Regions from separate parts of the Homo sapiens genome. Here region 1 is linked to region 2. Evidence: fine-mapped expression QTL. Tissue or cell type: blood mononuclear cells. Region 2 holds a variant in brackets; the other region holds the start of a gene. All regions are shown on one strand. Distances are from middle to middle.

The links. PIP is the estimated chance that this variant, and not a neighbour inherited with it, causes the effect.
Region 1: TNFAIP8 starts here. The variant in region 2 is fine-mapped to the expression of TNFAIP8 in blood mononuclear cells (TOPMed, PIP 0.97).

Annotation. Positions count from the first base shown.
Region 1 is chr5:119,351,942-119,362,598 of GRCh38, reverse strand. TNFAIP8 (TNF alpha induced protein 8) reads right to left here and starts at 6,580. Exons shown (of 2, transcript NM_014350.4): 1 at 6,478-6,580. The coding sequence starts at 6,508. It overlaps LOC102723444 (a long non-coding RNA gene), which reads left to right and starts at 6,826. Exons shown (of 5, transcript XR_007058912.1): 1 at 6,826-6,901; 2 at 8,233-8,344. RefSeq lists silencers at 5,894-5,953, 5,751-6,045, 6,674-6,833 and an enhancer at 7,484-7,623.
Region 2 is chr5:119,372,465-119,383,121 of GRCh38, reverse strand. All of the region lies in intron 1 of TNFAIP8 (TNF alpha induced protein 8), which reads right to left. Among named protein-coding and RNA genes, the nearest start is that of TNFAIP8, 22 kb to the right of the region's middle. The variant T/AT (reference allele first, on the strand shown) is at 5,361.

The DNA of each region.
Region 1 (10,657 bases), 21 kb after region 2:
GTCTTGAACTCCTGGGGTCAACTGACCCACCTCCTTCAACCTCTCAAAGTGCTGTAATTACAGGTGTGAGCCATTGTGCCTAGCCTTAATTTTTCCAATGGGGAAACTGAACTTCAGAAAGATTAAGTAGCTATTGAAGGTTGCACAGACAACCAGGAACAAAGTCATGAGTAGGATCAGTCTCCTGACTCACAGGGTCTTATCTCTGTTACCTACATACAATGTCCCCCTGGGAAAGTCCAGCTTCTAGACTGGCCCCATGTACCACTACAACATCACCACGAATGCCCACCATGATCACTGCTCTCCACACTTCTGTAGACATTCTTCCTGATCCCAGCACACAGCATAAGTAGGTTCCCTGTCACTCACTCTTTCTTTTTCTCTTCTCCATTTGCTTAAAGGAACTAGCTGGAATACAAGTTACCCCTCTTTGAAGTCACTTCTGTCCATCATGACTTTTGGTGAATACCCCCTCTTCTAGACTTTCATAGGGTCCACTGTCTGATCCTCTGAGCTGTACTCATCCCTCTCCATCATGTATTTTTGTACTATGGATGCACATGTGCTGTGTGTGATGCCCTGAACCAAAAACTCTCTGAAGATGGGGTTATCTACACACACATTTTTGCTTCTCCAGGCCCTGCAGAGGAGGTGCTATCTCAGTTAACATTTGTTGTTAGGAGTATCTGAGGCTCAAAGAAGGCAGCAGCAGGCAAGGGAGAGGGGCTGCACCCTGGAAGCAGGAGTCTACTGGACAGTCCATGACAGGCAGAACAGCCTGTGCCTCTGGGGACACCCCTGGTCCCCAGCTTCTCAGCCTGGCTGCGTAGGCCACATGAAAACACATATTGAAGCCAGGTGAGCTGGCACCAAGCATAAATGGCAGGTCAAACTGGAAGGAAAATTCATGAGCTGCTTATTCACTTCTTGACAGTCAACCCTGACTTCAACAAATGTGGTCTGGAGGCTTCAGGCACCTAAAGCTATCAGAGCCACGTAGGGAATTCTGCTTATAGTCTCTTTGCTTCATCACCTTCTTAGAAGAAACTCTGTTCCTAGTTACTTATAAAATTAACTATTATTCACTACAAAGCTGGAGAATGTATTATCATTAAGTCCACATAAACACAACTCCTCCCCTCCCCCATCTTCAAAACCATATAAATACCAGCTTAACTAACAGGCTTTACTCAATCTTACAGATTCCCAGGGCAGCACTCCCTTAGGCAATTTATTCCCAACTCAGCAGTTAGTCACTCAGGACATACTACATCCCTGTACCTCTTCTTCAAGGCTTATAAACTTTTAGAATAAAATTTAAGCAATTGCTCTTTCAGATATCTTGGTCAGCGGCTGGGGGGGCAGTGCGCTGCAGCCCCGCAAATGCTTCCTGAGAAAGGTGTCCTGACTCCCAGAGTGCACCGGGCCTGCTGCAATGTGCTCCAGAGAAAGAGAGGCTGTGGGATGTCTGCTTTTGCAATAGCACATTCTGTGTCAGAATGCTGACTCCCTTCCCACCCACACACATACATACCTTCTCCCCAAGGAAGAGTGTCTGTACCCAACCAACACCCTCAATAGCTAATTTTTCCTGAATGATATTCTCAAAGGAATGAAAACAAGTGAGCTCACTGTTTACCTGCCTCTCACTTGGTCTACAACTTTCAAAATCCGGGATCTAATAGGATCTACTTGCAGAGCTAAATTTTATTTCACAATGTCTCATGTTTTATTCTCTTGAGTTACACGTAGAAGGTGAAACAGGAAATCTTCATTTGTTTAAACATTCATCTGCGTTTTATAAATCCCCCCAAGAGGTAGTGAATGACAACTATACAAACAGACTAGGTCTGTCCTACTTCAAGGAGAGTGCATACAAATACCCAGGATGCTAAAACCTGTGTTTGCAAAAATCCTTGCTTGCAGAACATGTATTAAAGAGGATAGAAAGGGCTTGGCAATCACCTTGCTGGGCCTCAGTGCCTCACCTCTAAAATGAAGAGGTCAGAAAGAAGGATTGGCAAAGTCGCTTTTAGCTCTAAATCATGGTGATTCTATGTGTATTTGGTGGGAGAAGGGCACTTTAAATTACAGAAGACTTCTTACTACAGACCTTCCTTAAACATTAAAGATATACATATCATTTGGTTTTGTTTTAATTCAGCTTACACTATGTTTTAAAGAACAATCTTCTCTAAATGAAGACAGGTCTATAACCACACTAATCTCACTGACTTACAAGTTGCTAGCATAAAGACAGAAATGCTGACAAATAAATGATTTATAGGTAAATCCAGCAATTCTGCAGTGTTCTGAAATGCAATCGCTGGGTCCTGAGTTTTTCTGGCTCTACTGCATTCTCTTTCACCCACCCACTTTTTGGCTACTTCCTGGATCACCAACAGTCAGGAGCAGGAAATTTAATCATCCATATAATCCTGACTGTTCAATGGCGTAAGGTGGGGGCAAGAAAGGTAGGATGCATATTCAATATGATAAAAATTTCAGAAGTGAGGGGAAAAAAGCTCCAAATGCATTTAAGTTTACAGAGCTGGAGGTGTCTGGCAATGCCAAGTTATCAAGTGATGTCCACTGTAGAGGAGAGAGTATGATAGATCTCTAAATGGATTTTCCACTTTTAGTCCTTGTCAGCACACAACACTCCAAGCCTAATGACTACATAAAAGGAAACAGATAAGCACGTCAAAGTCCGGTGTTTAAGAGCATATGCTGTACCTTTTACATTATGTATGACATCAAGGTCAGCTATACCCCTTGGTTTCATCAGAGCTGAACCACTGCTTTAACCTCCTTTTCTCTTCATTCCCTCTGCAAAGCAAAGGCTGGGGAAGGGCAGGAATAGGGGAGAAAACTTACAAAATAGTCCTTAGTGATGAATGATATTATATAAGCTGCCACACCATGTGAGGTTAAAACAGAGTACTACACAGTGTGGTAGCTTATAAAATATCATTGGGATTCTTATTACAGAAGAGGATATTAATCACCACTACGGAACAACTAAACTTTTTTTTTTTTGCCAAGGATTAACTTTAAAGAATGGAGACCATTCACTCAATCTACAACATTTAATGAGCACCTTTTACTCTGTAGGTCCTAGACATACAGCGGGGAATAAAACAGACATTGTTTTTCCCTGCAGAGCTTGTGGTCTAGAAGAGATGTTAAGCAGTGTGGGGAGAGCCAGCAAGGAAAGGAACAGGTGCTCTGAGAGAGGGCGACAGGGGATCTGAGTTTAGGTTCAGAAAAAGCCTCTTTAAAGAGCTGACCAAGAAAAGGAGGTCAGGTGGAGAGAAGGATATTTTGGGCAGGAAGACCAGCAAGTGCCAATGTCCTAGAATGGGGAGCTTGAGTTCTTCTATATGCAGAAAAGAAGGAGCCAGGAAGGATATGGGCTGACTGGTGTAGGAGGAGCCCAAGGTGGAAGGCGGGGCATTCTGCAGTAGGAATGACACCTGTTCCACAGACACAGGGAGGATAGATGTGGACGGAGATGAGTCTGTCAGTCTGGGAACAGGACGTTGAGGGAGTTATCTAATGGCTACTGTTTTCTTTGTGAAATAGCAGGCCTGGTGAGGCATGAGAGTAAGAACTGGGTGAGGTGGTGGTGGGAAATGGCTACTATGGGCAATGGAGGAGCGAGCCAGACTCACTCACCACTCAATCCTCACTCTTTTCCAAGTCCCCACAAAGTGACACCTCGCCCACCCCTTAACAATGGCTTTCTCAATTTCTGGTATCAATGCTTCAACATCCAGAGCAAAGGAGCCCTGGATGCCTTGATGCTTAGCACTAGAAAGATTCTCAGAGATCTCAACTGCCACTCACTTTAACTACTTCATAATTAAGCAATTTACTCAGGAAACAACTAAATGCCAAATACACGGCTATCAGCCTATCTCCTCAGGAAGCCCCATCCACTGGAAACTGTTGATATCCTCTTTTTAATGGTAGTCACCTTTTTAAAAAAGTGAGTTTCTTCTTTCATTTCCCCTTCTTTCCTATTTATTCTATGTCTGAATAATTTAAACTCATTCAGTTTTTAATAAAGCAAGGCCTGGATTATTTTTCTCTGTTTAATACCCAAGCACAATCACTTATTCATTGTTAAGCAGGAAAAATTAAATCAATTATTTAGGAGATGGCTATAGGCTGGGGACAAATATCCAGCACCCCTGGCACAGAGTCAAGTATGTTTTAAGCTCTGATGGCTTAACAATATCCCCAGTCATTTGCTTCTACATTCACGCATATGCAAAAATATGCTGGCCTCCAAGGACTTAGATTCAACCCCAAAGTATACTAGTCTCTCACTACAGTTGAGAAAAATGACTTAAAAGTATCTCCTCTTACAGCGTATCAGGCATGAAGCATCCAAAGGCAGTTTTCTTGCAATACAGACATTCTTAAGAACTCATGGTGATCTCACACTAAATGGGATACATAAGTTCACCAGGATGAAAAAAAAAAAAAAAGCTACGTATAAGAGGAAAAGGACTAGTAACGATAGAGAAGATAACTGAGTTATTTACACAACATAGCTCGCTTCATCGACATCTGAGTGGTGGTAGCTAACCAGAAGGTTCTAGATTACAGCCAATGAACCAGCCTTGGAGAAAACACACCCAAAACACACAGACACCTATCCTTCATTTCCTGGCAGAAGCTATATGATTCTATCTGATTAATAAAGTGTTCAATCTCCCTCAAGAGTTATTCAGTATCCCACCCTAATTGCTATCAATTTAAAATTCTACTACCTCAGATTATTTTAAAAGAAACATTCTGGGCTTTCTTTAAAAAGCAGAGCGCCATATCATTTGTGGCCGATCTGCAGAATGTAAATGATGACAAGTGGAGGGAAGGTGAGGAACAAGCAGAAGGGGCCCCATTAACCTCTTCATAGGCCAGTTTGCAGGCTGCTTCCAAACTTAAAACCAGAGAGCTGGGCCCTCGAGGAGGGAAGACTGTGGATGTTGCTATGGGAATGTATAATACACACTTTGGGATACTGTTTTTCCACTTTCTCTCCCACTCTCTCTTTCTCAAAAGACAGGGAAAACACACCTGAGAGAAAACGCCAGCTTAAGTGCTACTTGTAATTCACACAGAAGTTCACCCTTGAGTTCTCTCAGCCTGGTTCCTATTTGCCTTCAACTACCTTTGACTTTGAATAAACTGCTGGTATAAAGACATAGAAAAGAAAAGCATCTATCAGCACACAGCTCCATCAGAACACAGGACACGGCAAGAAAGCATTACTCCCCCCATACTCCACATCAAACTCAAAAACAATGCTCCTGGCTGTCATTTTTCATTCATGCCAGCCCCGTATTTCTATTAAACAAACCTCCTTTTTATTGACTATTTCCCTCACACAGCATAATAAGGTAAACGTGAGCCCACAAAGACTACATGGTGAAACACAAAGCTTTCCTCTGGGAGGGGAATCAGTAAAAGGCAGAAGAGGACAAGTTTCAAGGGCTCTTCCTAACTGGTGTCTACCAAATGGAGAAATGATGGGGCTGCTCCTCTGCCAGAACTGCTGTGATTGACTTGAAATTAACCAGCTTTCCAAGAGACTACATGAAAAGAAAGAGTATTTCACAATCTTGAATAGTCTCCTCTCTTACTCTCTAATTTTCCCCAACCACCCTTACTCCCACCCCCCACTTACAAGAGAACTTTTGTATACATAAAGTTTCAAGGAACAAAGCATACAAACACTCACACACAAATAAACTCCCCAAACTAACACCAGCGTATAATTGTGTTTTGGTTGGAGCTTTTCCAGCCCTGTCACCTGTTCTCTGTTAGGAGTAAATGAAACCCTTTGCTTTTGCGAAGTTAGAAACAGACAAACTCTTCTCAGTTTCAAGCTGCACAAGGACCCCCTCATATCTTTCAGCCCCCTCAAACCCCCAACGAAATGAACTCACTGCTGAAAACCCAGCAATGAAAAAAAATTAATCTATTTCTCAAATACAGATTTTCGCTTCCCCTCACTCAGCTTCCCCTTTTAGCCGGAAACATATAGCGTTTCTAATTTCTCAAACCCCTTTTCAAGGGACCCTCCACTCAGGGCTCTTCCAGGGATCCCGCTTTCAGTCTTTCTGATGCAGGCAGGCAGCCCTTTTCCAAGCACATTTTGCATTCTTGGAGTCCAAGTGGGGCTCTTTCGTTTCCAGAGAAAGCTAAAAAGCAGACTTAGTGGGCTGGCTGAACTAGGTCCGACTTTTCCTCCCCTCCCCTCTGAACGGCTGCGGGGGGAGAAGGGAGCCCAAGATGAGACCCGGGCTCCGCTTATCCAGCTCCGACTTGGCTTCGAAGGCGCAGGGCAAGCGGACAAAGTGCCCACCGCTCACTTTAAAACTCCCATCCTCTTCTACCACTGCCTTCCTCCAAATTCCTCCGCAGAACTTGGCCGGCCCCCAGGAGAAACCAGAATCCTACCTTCCTTGGATTCTTCTGCTTCGGAGTGCATAATGTCAGGATAACCAGCTGCAGGGGCGATTACCGCTCACATGTACTCGGACGAGCCGCAAGTTCGCTCTGCAGCGAAATCCGCACACGACGGAAAATAAAAGGAAGAAAGCCACTAAAATCAAAACCTCCCCGGGGCGGGAGAGCGGGTTCTGGTGCAGGGATTTTCAGGGGGAAAGTTCTGCAAGAGTGACGAATCGCGTGTCAGCTGGGCGGCGGGAGTCCGCCCCCGGAGCCGCGCGCTCGGGCCGGCAGCCGGGCGGAGGCGACCTGGCGGGGCTGGCTCGGCCCGGGCGCACGCAGGTGGGGCACAGGCCCAGACGGCAGCCGACTCTCCCGAGACACAGGGCCGAGAAGAACCGTCGGCAAACGCACCAGACGGGCGGAAAAAAAGGTATAAAAAGAAAAAAAAAGTCTCATCTCAGAGCACACTGTAGTTTTACATAAATAGCAAATGCATATAGGGTAGAACCAATGCCTCTGTATTTTTGGATTACATTTTTTGATGCCCATTTGACTTTGTCTTGGAGTCTTGCAACCCAAAAATTACGGATTTTAAAGCGGCTTTGGTATGTTATTTTTGTAGGAAAGTCGCATGGATATCGTCCATGGGGTTGCAAGGACCAGCTTAAGAGAGCACAATTTCACAAGTCCCAGAGCGGGGCCTTTTGAAGAAAGTGGAGCGGCCTCCACCCTTACCTTTGCACAGCAAAAGCAGACGGGGCTGCTTACTCATTCAGTATAGCCCCGGGCGAGCACTGGTACTCCAAGCACAGCCCGGGCACTCATTGCTGCAGTTACTCCAAAGGGCCTTCCTCAGGGGGAGAGCACGGTTCCCTCCCGGCTACCAGCAAAAACTGGGGATGAATTCCTTCAAAATGCCAAAGGGGAGGTTTTCAGGATTTGAAATGCTGATAGAATAAAGAAGCCGGACAGCCTTCACAACAGATCTCAATTCTGCCCCCGGGTCTGGCCCACAGGCCCCTACAAATTGGCTGAGAGGAAGTCCCCTTAGCTCTGTGGAGCCTTGGTTTTCCCTTCTGCAAAGCGGGGACAAGAGCTGCCACTGATAGGCCTGTCTTACGGAGGTATTTTGTAGAACACTTGTTTTATCGCCAGTCTGAGGCAAAAAGTCCTCAAATAACATATCTGAAAGATCCGCTTGGAAATTATGAGAAAAAAATATACTCTTTTGACAAATTTATTTTCCAGTTCGTTTCTTTTTCTTCGTTTCCGATTTTATATAGGCAAAAACCAATAGAAACACTATGGCAAATTTAGTGAAAAGAACGTACAAAAGACATGGATTTAAGGAGTCTGAACTTAAATCCAGTTCTGCCATCTATCATTTGTATGACCTTATGCAAATTAACCTCTCTGAGCCTCCAGTTCCTCATTTGTAAAATGAAGATAAAAATAGTATTATTTACTTCACAGATTTATGTCTGTATTAAATAAGGTAATATAAGCACAAAGGGATTTGAAAACCATAAGGACTACATAGATTATTACCATTGCACCATTAAAAGTAAATTTTTATAAAACATACTCTTGGGTTTTATTTCAGTATTGACTTTGAACAGAAAAGAGTGCTTATGCTATTCACAAGCAGTGAAGGCTATTATAAATATTAATGTAAGAGGTCTAGATATTAAATCACATCCTACTGCTGAGAGATTCTAACCTGCCTAAGATTCTAACATGTTATCTCAATTTCACTGAAAGAGCAGGATGAAGGGAGGAAGATATAGCCAGCCAGAGAAGGGAGAAGAGGAGAAACATCTGGAAAATATCAGTGTTGCAGAGCCTCCCGGAAACTGACCTCGCCACCGAAAGGGTAACAGACTGCACCCTTCCGAAAGTCACAGTTAACTTCATGGTCCCCTCTGCCACACATCCTGAGTCAGGAGCTGCTGATATGTATACCTTGCACTCAGTAATCTCAGACTTATGGGGAGATACACTGAGATGAGGATGATTCTGAACCCAAAGAAATGCTCCCTCACCAGTCACAAGTGGCTTTTCCTGTCCTGCCCAAGTCAACATTCTGCCCCTCTCTCCCTATACCATCTATCCTTGCCCTTCCTCACTGCAACCCAGATGTCCACAGATAGTCCACAAGAGATCTTAAGGGATCTCACCAGGGCCGTGTGCTACACAAGAGAGCTTCCACTGATCTATAATTGGGGTAAAGCAACACCTTTTCAAGGTGATGATTATGCAAATCCAGACAACCCAAATTTCAGGCCCAATCTGCCTACAGCAGAATTACTTTCACTCTCTTCTTTTAGAAAGTACCCTTACAAGAAATATTTATTAAATGTCATTTTGCAAGTCCAACTGGGGACAAACCACATAAGATATGTTAAAATACATGTCCTTTAATGTGCTACTTGTTTTACAACTGCTGAATGAATAGTTCAAGCGCTCCGTCAGCCTTATAATTCATTTTAGATTCATGTTAGCTTCGTTGATCTTTGAACATTCACCATCGGCCTCAGGAAGCCTGGAGAGAAACTTCTTTTGTATTTAAATGCAAGCAAGCAGTCACCTTGGGGAAGAATGCTCTGTTTTAGCTCAAGAGCAATGAATGCTCAGCTTATTTTAAAAGGCTTTATGTGAATAAGTACATTCCTCAGTCTCCCGTATAACCTCAAAGCCATCTGCTCTGGGCAGGCTGCATTGCCCCATACCCCTACCCTGCAACATGGTGACAAAGGGCAGCTGATTCTCTAGGGCTCCCCTTGGCCTTCTGCTGCTCTCAGATATGTACTAGGTCATTTTGATTTTGCTGTGCTTTTATTCAAAAGGGGATAATTTACTTCTTAGCCCCAGTGAATAATGGTCCAGTACATCATAATGATTTGTTATCTCCTGTAGGTGGGACTTGTTGATTCTTGTATGTTTAAGAAACACCCCAAACATCCTTCACATGGCAACATGTATGGAAGTCATACCAACAAACTATTACCGCCCGCCTGATACAAAATTGCAACTAAGTTAGCAACACTTCTCATTTAATAACAAACTGTACTTAAATTTAAATACTATGTTGAACTCCTGCAAGTGTCTAATAATGGAACTCCCACCTTTTGTGTCAAGATGGAAGAATGAAAATGGTAGCTAAGATTCTGAAGGTTTATTCATTCATTGAGGTATAATCAAATATTTGTGTGTGTCATATGTAAATTGACCCTACTCACCTGGGGCTTATTGACATAATTTTGTTAATTTGACCACAGACCTAAAGAACTCAACTTTCCAAGTCACCTTGGTTCTAAGGAAGGTTTATTAACACCAACTCTCGACTGAACTTTATCACAGGGCAGCAGAAAAATCTCTTTCCAAATTATGCCTTAAATAAAGCTGTTCAAAGAGTTTTTTTTAAAGGCCTGACTTTTAGGCCTTTTGCTCACAGCTCCCCAGATGTCTGTTAAGAAAAGGGGAGATCAGTGAGTTTTCAGACTCACACAAATTAGAAGGCCAGCCGGCAGAACTGGGAAGACAAGGTACCTTTTAATTAGGAGGTATCAAATATTCCACTCACATTCAAGAATGTTATATGTTCTCTGCAGTGAAAAATATGAAGCACCTCTGTAAACTAGTTATGGACCTATAGCCTCTAGTTCGCAAAAACTTCAGGTCACCAAAAATGGTCATTTTTTTTTCTAACCTGCTGAGGCTGAATCTGCTTCCTTCAATTTCACTTTGAGACCTTCTTCAACTTCTCTTGTATCATTTTTGTCTACACCCTTGAAAGCCTTCGAAGGCTTCCGTGATCTATATAAAAAGTTGGCTGTCACTCCTGTTTCCCCATATGCGGGAGAGATCTGTGTCTTGGTCTCACCTGGTTAGGCCTGTAGGCTTTGAGTTCTTCCTATTATCCTCAGACACATTTACATTTACCCTTCCATAACACAAGTAAGCCTAAGTGGGTATCTCTCCATGGCCTCTCCCTGGCCCAGGTTATTTGGCTCTCTTAGCCTTAAGAAAATGGTATTTATGGCCGGGCACAGTGGCTCACCCCTGTAATCCCAGCACTTTGGGAGGCCGAGGCAGGTGGATCACAAGGTCAGGAGTTCGAGACCAGCCTGGCCAAGACAGTGAAATCTCATCTCTACTAAAAATACAAAAATTAACTGAGCACAGT
Region 2 (10,657 bases):
AAAAGAGTCTTATGGGGGAAAATTATCTCTAGTTAAATAAGTTTGGGAAACAGTGTACACAAAGGTCCCCTTTGGAGATGCACAAAATGCTTTAATAATACTAAAGGCTTTGAGGATTAGTGCAATAAAGAACCATTTTAACTTTGCTTACCCAAGTTTTGCAAATTAATTTCACAAAGGATACCATAACAAATTTGTAGAATAAAGTCAGTGAAAATAATTGGCTAACAAATTAACTAGGGTTCTTGGTATTCCTCTGGAATGAATTCACAATTATCAGATGCAAATAGGGGAGTACAAGACAGGCAGTCAGGTAAACCCAGGCATTATGGTAATTGCAAGCACCGGCTCTAGAGTCAGACTGGGTCAGGGGCCTTGCCCTGCTACTGAGTGCTCATGTGCCTGGAGCAAATTATCTAACCTCTCTATGCCTCAGTTTCCTCATCTGCAAATGGGACTACCAAGAGGATTAAATGAAAGTAATCCATATAAAGTGCTTAGAACAGCACCAAATATAAAATAATTGGGTCAACTGATGTAAGCAATTATTATTATTATTATCATTATTATGGTAGATACTGTAAACGTTCTGCTGGTATAGGATGCCACAGGTCTTATGATCAGGTCTTGTGAAAGGAGTGTGGCGAAAAGAGAGAACATAAACCCAAAGACATGAGTCAGTCAACAAAAACTTTTGTTGAGTGTGTATAATGTATAAGATACTGTGGTTTCAAAGATAAATAACACTATCCCTCTTCTCCACTCAAGACTCCCAGGGACTGGTCCGGGGATAGATGAGTACACAGCTAGGCAGAATGCACCATAAATTGTGTAACAGGAACATGTAAAAATGCAATGGTAGCAAAGAGTGGAAACATTAGTTTTTGCTGATGGGGTGATAGAGGGAGGTTAGGTTTGAGGAAAGTTTCACAAAAGGAGATTGACTTCAAAGAAAAAGAAGATTCTGCCTTATAGAAATAAATATGATTGTATTTCAGAGCAGATCTGTGGAATTCCTACTGGCTAATTAGGAATTAAAAAATTTTGTTCATCAGTGTACCTATATGTCAGAAACCCAAGGATGTATGTGTCTCCTATGAATTTTAGAAAAAATTGAAACATTATATATAGCTTGTTAAGACCCAGGAAATACTACAAAGGTACTCCGTTTTTTGTTCGGTGTTTTTTTTTATTTTTTTTGAGACGGAGTCTTGCAGGCTGGAGTACAATGGCGCGATCTTGGCTCACTGCAACCTCCACCTCCCGGGTTCAAGCGATTCTCCTGCCTCAGCCTTCTGAGTAGCTGGGACTACAGGTGCCCACCACCATGCCCGACTAATTTTGTATTTTTAGTAGAGACGGGGTTTCACCATATTGGCCACTCTGTCCCTGGTAAAACTCCTCTGGCCAAAGTGCCACCCTTATTGGGAGTATAACCAAGAAATCTTACCCGGGACCCTGGGACTGCTCACAGGAGTGGACCTTCTTACTACATCCTAGGAAAAAGAGACAGGGGAATGGCCTCTATACTGTGGTATATAGTCTCTGTACTCCGTTTTTTTAATTTTTATTTTTTATTTTTTGAGACAGGGTCTTGCTCTGTCACCCAGCTGGAGGGCAGTGGTGCAATCATGGCTCACTGCAGCCTCAACTTCCTGGGCTCAGGTAATCCTCCCACCTCAGCCTCCTGAGCAACAGGAACAGGCACACCACCATGCTTGGCTAATTTTCTGTATTTTTTTGGGTAGAGACAGGGTTTCAACATGTTGCCTACGATGGTCTTGAACCCCTGAGCTCACACAATCTGCCATCCTTTTCCTCCCAAAGTGCTGGGATTACAAGCGTGAACCACGGCACCCAGCCAATACTTGGTTTTCAAGAAGGCTTTGTTTGGCAGGGAGAGGATAGATATAGCAGGTATCTGAGGAAGAATTCTTAGTGTCATGGGCCGTCCACCACAGAAGCGCCGGAGGCCTCTTAGAAATGGCTAAACCAACGGAATCAGAATCTCCAGGATTGCAGTCTGAGAGCCAGCATTTGTAGGAAGCACCCTACCTGATTCTGATATATAGTAAAGTTGGAACACGCCTGCTCTGAGCTGTACTCCTAGAATGCCATACTTAAAATTTTCAGACGTACTCTGGCTATAAAGGCATGCTGTGAGTAGATTATGGACAGATTTAATTCCCTCTCAAGATTTTTTTCACAAAAATACAGATGTCAGCTTGTGCAAGGAATATAGATAAAATGTTTTCTAAACAGAGCTCACTATATTAAACATTTAAAAAAATTTGATAAAGTATCCAAGAGAATAGAAAAGTTAGCCCATTCTAGATAATACTGTAAACCAAAGTTTGAACAGAGCCTAACTCTACCGCTAGGCTACAAAATGGCTTTGAAATTAAATTAAAATATCCTACAATTGTTTATACAAAACTGAACTTAGTGAACTATCCTTTGTCTTTTGAAATTAAATGAATCTTCCTTATTTATTATGTTGAATTAGGATACATTAGTCTTTCTAAAGACTTTTCAATTAAGCTGGATTTATTTACATATTTTCTTGAAGACATAAAACCTTTCCACTGTTGATATAATCCAATCATCTACCAGAATGTAGAGGATAATCCTCTCAACAGCTCCGTGATTTTCTACACTTTTCCATCCCTAAATTCTCCCGTCCTGCCAGAGGCCCTGACTCTTGATGAATATTTATATTCATGCAGGGCTTAGAAAACCAGTAACATTTTAAAATCCAGCACACTAGAGTGAAGTTACTGAACCAGACCCACAGCTGGCATCAATGGTCAACACACCCTTTCTGGTTTCATCAGGTTGCTCCTGGCCACATAACAAAGACAAGAAAACTTACAGTTGATTTTTGTATAGTACTCTACAGTTTGCAAGATATTTTCACTAACACTTTTAAATGAATTTCTGGTTTGGTCCTGTTATTACTTAACCCTGGGGGACCCAGATAAGAGAAGTGAGGCTCAGAAGTCAAGTGACTTATCTAAGGGTGCATAAACAGTGGCAGAGCTGAGGCCCATTACTTCTTACTATAGCACACAGCTGCTCTATAAGAAAAGTGAAATTAGGATAATGTTCATTGTTTATAAATTGCCTACCAAATGCCATGAAGCTGCTTGCCAGCTGCAGAATCCCACTTCTTAGAGCCTGCCTGCTCCCCCAGATAAAGCAACTCCTCGAACTAAAAAGAAGGAGCACAGGCCAGCCACAGTGGCTCATGCCTATAATCCCAGCACTTTGGGAGGCTGAGGTGGGCAGATCACCTGAAGTCAGGAGTTTGAGACCAGCCTGGCCAACATGGAGAGACCCCATCTCTACTAAAAATACAAAAAAATTACCCAGGTGTTGTGGTGTATGCTTATGGTCCCAGCTACTCAAGAGGCTGGGCTGGGAGGATTGCTCAAGCCTGGGAGGTTGAGGCTGCAGTGAACTCAGATCACGCCACTCCACTCCAGCCTGAGTGACAGATGAGACCCTGTCTCAAATCAAATCAAATAAAAATAAAACAAATCAAATGAAGGAGCACAGGTCAAACACATCAGGGAACAGAAACTAAAGAAAAGCTATATATCTGCCTTCACCTTCCCCCTTCATCCCTGCCTGAAAGAGTGCTATTGATCCTGTAAAGCTCAATGTAAATGCCGCCCCTTCCAAAAAGCTTTTCCAAATCCAATGGCCAGAATAAATCTCTCCTAACCTGCTTTTCTGTCTTGTGAAAGAGTTAAATTCCTCTCTTATCTATTTAGAATCCTTGACAAGTAAGGTACAGGTACATGCCTTTTCATCTCTGTATTGTTCAAAGTGCTTAACACGTGCCCTCCAGCTAGCATGGGGTGCACTAAACCCTATGCTCTAATCTGCCTCCATGGAACCCTTCACTCTCTTTTACAGCAATTCATGAAGGTGTATCAGGAAATCAACTCAATTTCTTCTATTTAGAGCTTAATAAATGAATTTATCTGTACTCCATGAATAAACACATAACCCTAAATATGGATACAAACTATCTTTTGTTTTATTTATTTTTAAAAGACAATGTCTCACTCTGTCATCCAGGTTGGAGTGCAGTAGCCAGATCATAACTTACTGCAACCTTGAACTCCTGGGCTCAAGAGATCCTCCACCTTAGCCTCCTGAGTAGCTAGGATTACAGGCGCACACCACCATGCCAGGCTCTCTTTGTAGAGATGAGTTATCACTATGTTGGCCAGGCTGGTCTCAAACTCCCGGCCTCAAGTGATCCTCCTGTCTCAGCCTCCCAAAGCACTGGGATTACAGGCGTGAACCACTGCGCCCAGCCACCTTTTGCTTTAAAGGGGAGGAAGCTGTGTAAAAGAAATGCATTTTCATTTTTTTAATCTATTGCTTTTCTTCCCTGCCCTTTGCCAAAACATACAGAATAACCAGCTACTTTTGTTTGGAGAAGTGACCATATTTAGTTAACTCAATCCTTACAGCAAATGTTCTGGAATCTTCCATGCAAAGATCCCAAACCCATCTGTTTGAATATTTTAGGAGCAGTAACCTCTTGGCCTCAGCTTGGGCATCTCTCAAATATGCATCTTGGCACAACCTCTCAACATTCTTGTCACAATTTTTCCTCAATAACTGTATCCAAATGTTGTTAGGCATTTCATAGCCATGTTAATGTCAGGAGGCTAGATCCAGTTAAAGGTAAACAAAGAGTAAGATGGAATTTGCTAGGCTTTCATGTAAACGATCTCATTTTAAATATCAAGACACTCTGAAGCTCTGAAATTCTAGGAAAAAAAAACCCAGAGTTCTATAGAAGCAGTATTGCTCACCACCAGCACAGCATTTATATTCTCTGTGAAGTGGTTGTTACCCCTTTCTAACCTTTCCTCTCCGCATGCCCAGGCATCCCCGTTTTATTTAGATCAGGATGCCTTGCAGAAGTTGTAACCTGGATATCATATTATTTGGCCCATCCAGGATTGTACTTTAGGATTAGTGGTCCATGTTAGAAAATTGGGAAATTTAGCTTCAACATGTGTGTGTCTGATTTTCTTTGAACAATCAGATCTGACCAAATGGGCCCACGTTCTCATATGACAACAATGGATTTGAGCTAAATTATGGCTGCCTCCTTTAGAAGACTACCCTTTCCAGCTTACCACATCCCTCCTGGCCATCTACACATTTCTGTTCATTTCCTGGGTTCTGTAGGCATTTGCGTAGGTAATCACTGCCTTACAGAAATAAATGTGATTATATTTCAGTGGAACAACTCCTACTGGGTAGTCAGGAATTAAAAATCTGGCCCAGCAGTGTACCCGTATGTTGGAAACTGAGGGGCATGTGTGGGGTCT[T/AT]GGATTTGTGAAATAATTTAAACACAACTTATATGAGGTTCTAACGAGGGGTTTGCAAGGTGAAGTGGTGGGAAGGTTAAGAGTGATCATGATTTGTTTTCATAACACTTGTTCATAGACTTCAGGAAGCTACATTTGAGTACCAAAATCTCCTTATTTCTATAGAATGTGTCAACTAAGTCACAGAGCGGTGGTAAATTTGACAAATTTACAATGATCCCAGGAGAAAACTGAACTTGGATTCTCCATACCAGTTTGGAGCTCTACACAGTCAAGAGCCTTATGGCAGAAAAACTTTCCCCCATTCATTCCCTCACTCTTTCTCCAACAAATTTTTATTTTTTATTTTTTTTTTACTTCTTATTTAATTATTTATTTGAGACAGGGTCTCACTCTGTTGCCCAGGCTGGAGTGCAATGTCACTCTGACCTCCTAAGCTCAAGTGATCCTTTCACCTCAGCCTCCTAAGTAGCTGGGACCACATGTGCATGCCACTATGCTTGGTTAATCTTTGCATTTTCTGATAGAGACAGGGTCTCGCTATGTTGCCCAGGCTGGTCTCAAACTCTTGGCCTCAAGCAATCCTCCTGTCTTGGCCTCCCAAAGTGCTGGATTACTGGATGAGCCACCAGGCCCAGCCTCATTCAATACACTTTTATTTTATTAAGCAACTGTTATGTGCCAGGCAAAGTGCCTACTCTCAGGAAGCACAGATTCTAGGACACCTAATATATAAACAAACAAACAAACATATATAAATACGTCAAGCAGCAATATAGGCTAAAAGAAAAATGAAATGTGTGTATGGGAGGGGGAACTATGTTATTTTATCTAGGGTACTTGATGTACTTGGGGAAGGCCTTTCCGAAAAGGCGACATTTGAGCAGAGGCATGAAGGAATCAAGGGGGACCTGTCTTGAGTTGGTGAAGTCTCCCACAGTCCCTCCCAAATATCACCTTCCAAATATCAGGAAGTCCTCATTGACCGTCCATTCAGAAATGCTCTATCCTGTCTCTAACTGCTGTTGGAAACTGCTTATCATACTTTTGTTTCCGTACTCCCTGAAAGTAAATCCTAGTGATTGGTTACAATTTATTGTTTATTCCTTGCAATAAATGACCAATTAATCTTTAATATGTATCTGCTGGATTAAAAGCATTCTCAGGTTGTTTCTGGGGGAGCAGAAAGACGGGGGGGGTGGGAAGACAATGAATACTGATTTTTATAAAACAACCGAAATAAGAGGCTACAAATAAATAACATTAGATTTAATTATATTTCAAATACTCTTACATATGAAATAAATATTCCAATGCAGTCCTTTTGAAAAAGTTTATTTTTGCCGGGTGCAGTGGCTCACACCTGTAATCCCAGCACTTTGGGAGGCTGAGGTGGGCGGATCACCTGAGGTGACAGAGAGCAGTTCGAGACCAGCCTGGCCAGCATGGTGAAAGCCCATCTCTACTAAAAATACAAAAATTAGCCAGCTGTGGTGGCACATGCCTGTAATCCTAGCTACTCAGGAGGCTAAGGTGGGAGAATCTCTTGAAGCCGGGACGGGGAGGTTGCAGTGAGCCGAGATTGCACCACTGCACTCCAGTCTGGGCAACAGAGCAAGATTTCATCTCAAAAAAAAAAACAAAAAAGAAAATTTAAGTTTATATATATTTTTTCATTTTAATTTCAGTGTTCTTTGGGTGGAAAGTGTTTATTCTAAATGCGACATTTCATCACTAAAGATAGGCATCCAAAAAGTCATCTGATAACATTTGGAACTGGCAAAAACTACTGAATAACCCACACTTTGAAAAATAATAATTGTTTTTAGTACAAATGTTGGTTCAAGATTTTTAAAAAGTCATATTCTTTAGGTTTAAGTCATAAGAAAAAGGCAGAAACTCTACCTTTCTTTGCTAGTTTGCTACGAAAGAAAAAAAGCTGAAGATTAACTAAGGATATAATCCTTACTTTAAGATCCTAAATTGAACATTTTGCCTCTATTGAAATCGGCAAACTTAAAATTATATTTAAAATTTAATAGAGCCTCCCAAAAGTTACAAAGACAAATTGTTTTATTAAAATAATTATATAATCCTTTGATGTTGATGACATATACTTGCTATATTAAACTCATTTTCCACTTGAAGAAAATAACTAAAAAGATCATTATAGTCGTTCCCTGGTAAGAACTGAAAAACGTTTTCCAAAATATACGAACTTGCTGTCTTGAAGATTAATTACTTCTCTAATGGTTAATATCTGGGTAAAATAAACTTTGGCAAGTAACATAACACAACCAATCAATGTTATAAGTAGTTGCAAAATAAAATAAATTTCTTCTCTAAAATACTTGAGCAGCCCCCACCTTTCGTAGCTGTGTCTTTTCACCTACTCACTCGTTACTCTAAAAGAAAGTCCACCACTCCACATCTCACCATTTCTATCATGGGTCCTATTTTAGGAGATAGAAGAAGCCGTGGAGACCACAGGAAGAAAAACAGAGGCCTAGAGGTTAACGTAGGGATCACAACATGACCCCCATTAATTCCCAATCACTTGCTCCCCTGTGGAAAGGTGCTTTCTGTTGGGATTATGAAAAGCAGCAAATAGCAATTCCTCCATTTGAAGCAAAGCTTACAAACTTTTGGCAGGCAACATGTTTTGGCTGGGCCCTCATAGTGTTTTTTTCTTTTTCTAATTAAGATAAAATTCATATCACATAAAATTCACCACTGTAAGCATTTTAAAAATCTACAATTCAGTGGTTTTTACTATATTCACAATGTTGTGCAACTATTACCACTATCTAACTCCAGGACATGTCCATCACCCCCAAAATTGGCCCCCAAAAGGTTCTAAGTTTTATTTCTGTAATTAGTATTTAAAAAAACTTGTAGAAGTTGGGAACTTTCAATAAAAATTCACATTTCTGGCTTCTCAGAAAAAAATCTGACCTTCTGGCAATACTGAGGGAGGAGAGTGGGAAACACAGGGTCCTCTCCAATTAGCCCCCCGGCCATTCCAGCACTTGGGTAATTTCCTGGCTCCCGTAGGCATATGCCCTAGCTACCCCGCATTGAAATGATCAGGGGCTCAAACCATTCTGAATCACTTTGCAGACAGCCTTGAGTATAAGATGCAAAGAGCTACAGCCCTCTGTTCCCTGCGCTGGCAACCAAGCTGAGCTAGAAGGCGTCCAACTCTGACTCTTCAACAGGACCCCCTGGGCTTCTGCCAACTTCTTACTCACCTTTCTCTCAAAATGTTACCTTCTCCATCCCAGGATCTTTGCTGGAATCTCTCTTCCCCTGAAAAGTCATGCTGTATCTATGTGAGGAACATCCTAACCCACTTGCCTTGTTTTCTATTTACTATCGGTACAGGTTGAGCATCTCAAATTTAAAAATCCAAACTCCAAAATATGCCAAAATTGGAAAGTTTTTGAGAGCTGATATGGCACTCACTAAAACAAAATGCTCATTGGAGCATTTCAGATTTCAAATTTTTGGATATAGGATGCTCAACCAGTAAGTATAATGCAAATATTCCAAAAATCTGAAAAAAAAAATCCAAAATCTAAAACACTTCAGTCCCAAGCATTTTGGATAAGCGATACGCTACCTGTATTTTACTTTAACTTATGGTTACTTAATGTATTTGTATTAAAAAAATTAATTCACATAAAAGGAAACCCTATATACTATGTGAATGGAAACTGATACTCCCCTAAATATATCATTAAAAATCATTAAAAAATGTTTAAAACCATAAGAAATAATTCAATGAGGAAAAAAAACACCAATACTATTAGTTTCTAGCCAGATATTGTTGCCTGCCAAAGGCTATGAATCCCCATCTACCTACATGGCACAAAAAGAGGTAAGCTTCTGTGAGCTGGCAGAGATCACATAGCCCAAAACGCAGGCATTCTCTGTGAATGATGTCAAGGACTCCAAGGACACTGAAAAGGAACTAATTTTTTTGTGATATGACTGAAGATGATTTAATACTATACCTGGGACCTCCTAAAATCAGTCACTGTACTACCAGTGGCATACGTACCATATTTGGGAAACAACCACACGTCCAGTCTTCCAAAGCTTCATGCCAATCCCTTCCGTCTCAACAGTTCTGCCTCAAAGATCTCAGCCACAGACAGCCCTTCTGAAACCTCTCTAACCCCCATGTAATATGTACTTTCTTGTATGCATGTTAACTCCTCTAGACTGAAAACTACTCAACAGCAGCAACAGGTCTTCCACATTGCATACTCCTCCTCTGGTGAAGGTACCAGTATTAACTTATCCCTAGTCACTTTCCCGTTGTATGCCTGTCTTGACGTCCCGGTGAGGAAAGTTTTGAAGTGACTTTTTAGAATTCCAAACAAGCTTCTAAATGAAATGAATGAAAAATGTCTTAGTACATGAAGTGCCTAACATAGGGAAAATATCTGCATCTCTTCACTCTCTCTTACATTTTGGGGTAAGAGTAATTTTACTATTGGGAAGTCATTCTTGGTGTACTAACAAGAGCTATCCCACATACGGCAGTTTTTATCTTATAGGAAAGTCAGTGTGGCCAGCAGGCTGTCGAAAAGGGGTTGGGTATGGTTATTAAGCTTTGTGTCTGGGGTGGATGAAGGGACTGAGTGTCTTCTGTAATGACTTCAGGTGTAATACATACCCAAGAAGAATCCAGTCATACTACCAAGGTCAGCATGGTAGAGATATAGGACAAAGATCATAAAAAATAAATGCAGTGTTAACTAACATAACTTTATTATTTATTTATTTTATTTTTGAGATGGAGTCTCAATCTTTCACCCAGGCTGGAGTGAAGTGGCGCCATCTTGGCTCACTGAAACCTCTGCCTCCCAGGTTCAAGCGATTCCCCTGCCTCAGCCTCCCGAGTAGCTGGGATTACAGGTGTGCGCCACCATGCCTGGCTAATTTGTGTATATTTTAGGAGAGATGGGGTTTCACCATGTTGACCAGTCTGGTCTCGAACTCCTGACCTCAGGTGATCCTCCTGCCTCGGCTTCCCAAAGTGCTGGGATTACAGGCATGAGCCATAGTGCCCAGCCACTAACATAATTTTTTAAAAAAATGTTAAGATACAATTTATGATGGTCAACTTGTATTTTTATGGTATGTGGGCTACTTTTTCTAAAAGACTGGAGCCTTTATAAAATCTGCACACATAGCGGTGGCCATTTAACAAAGCTAGGAATTTATTTTACTTAGTCAAATGATTAGCAAGGTTTACGGTCATATCTTTGTTCTTGGAAAATATTATA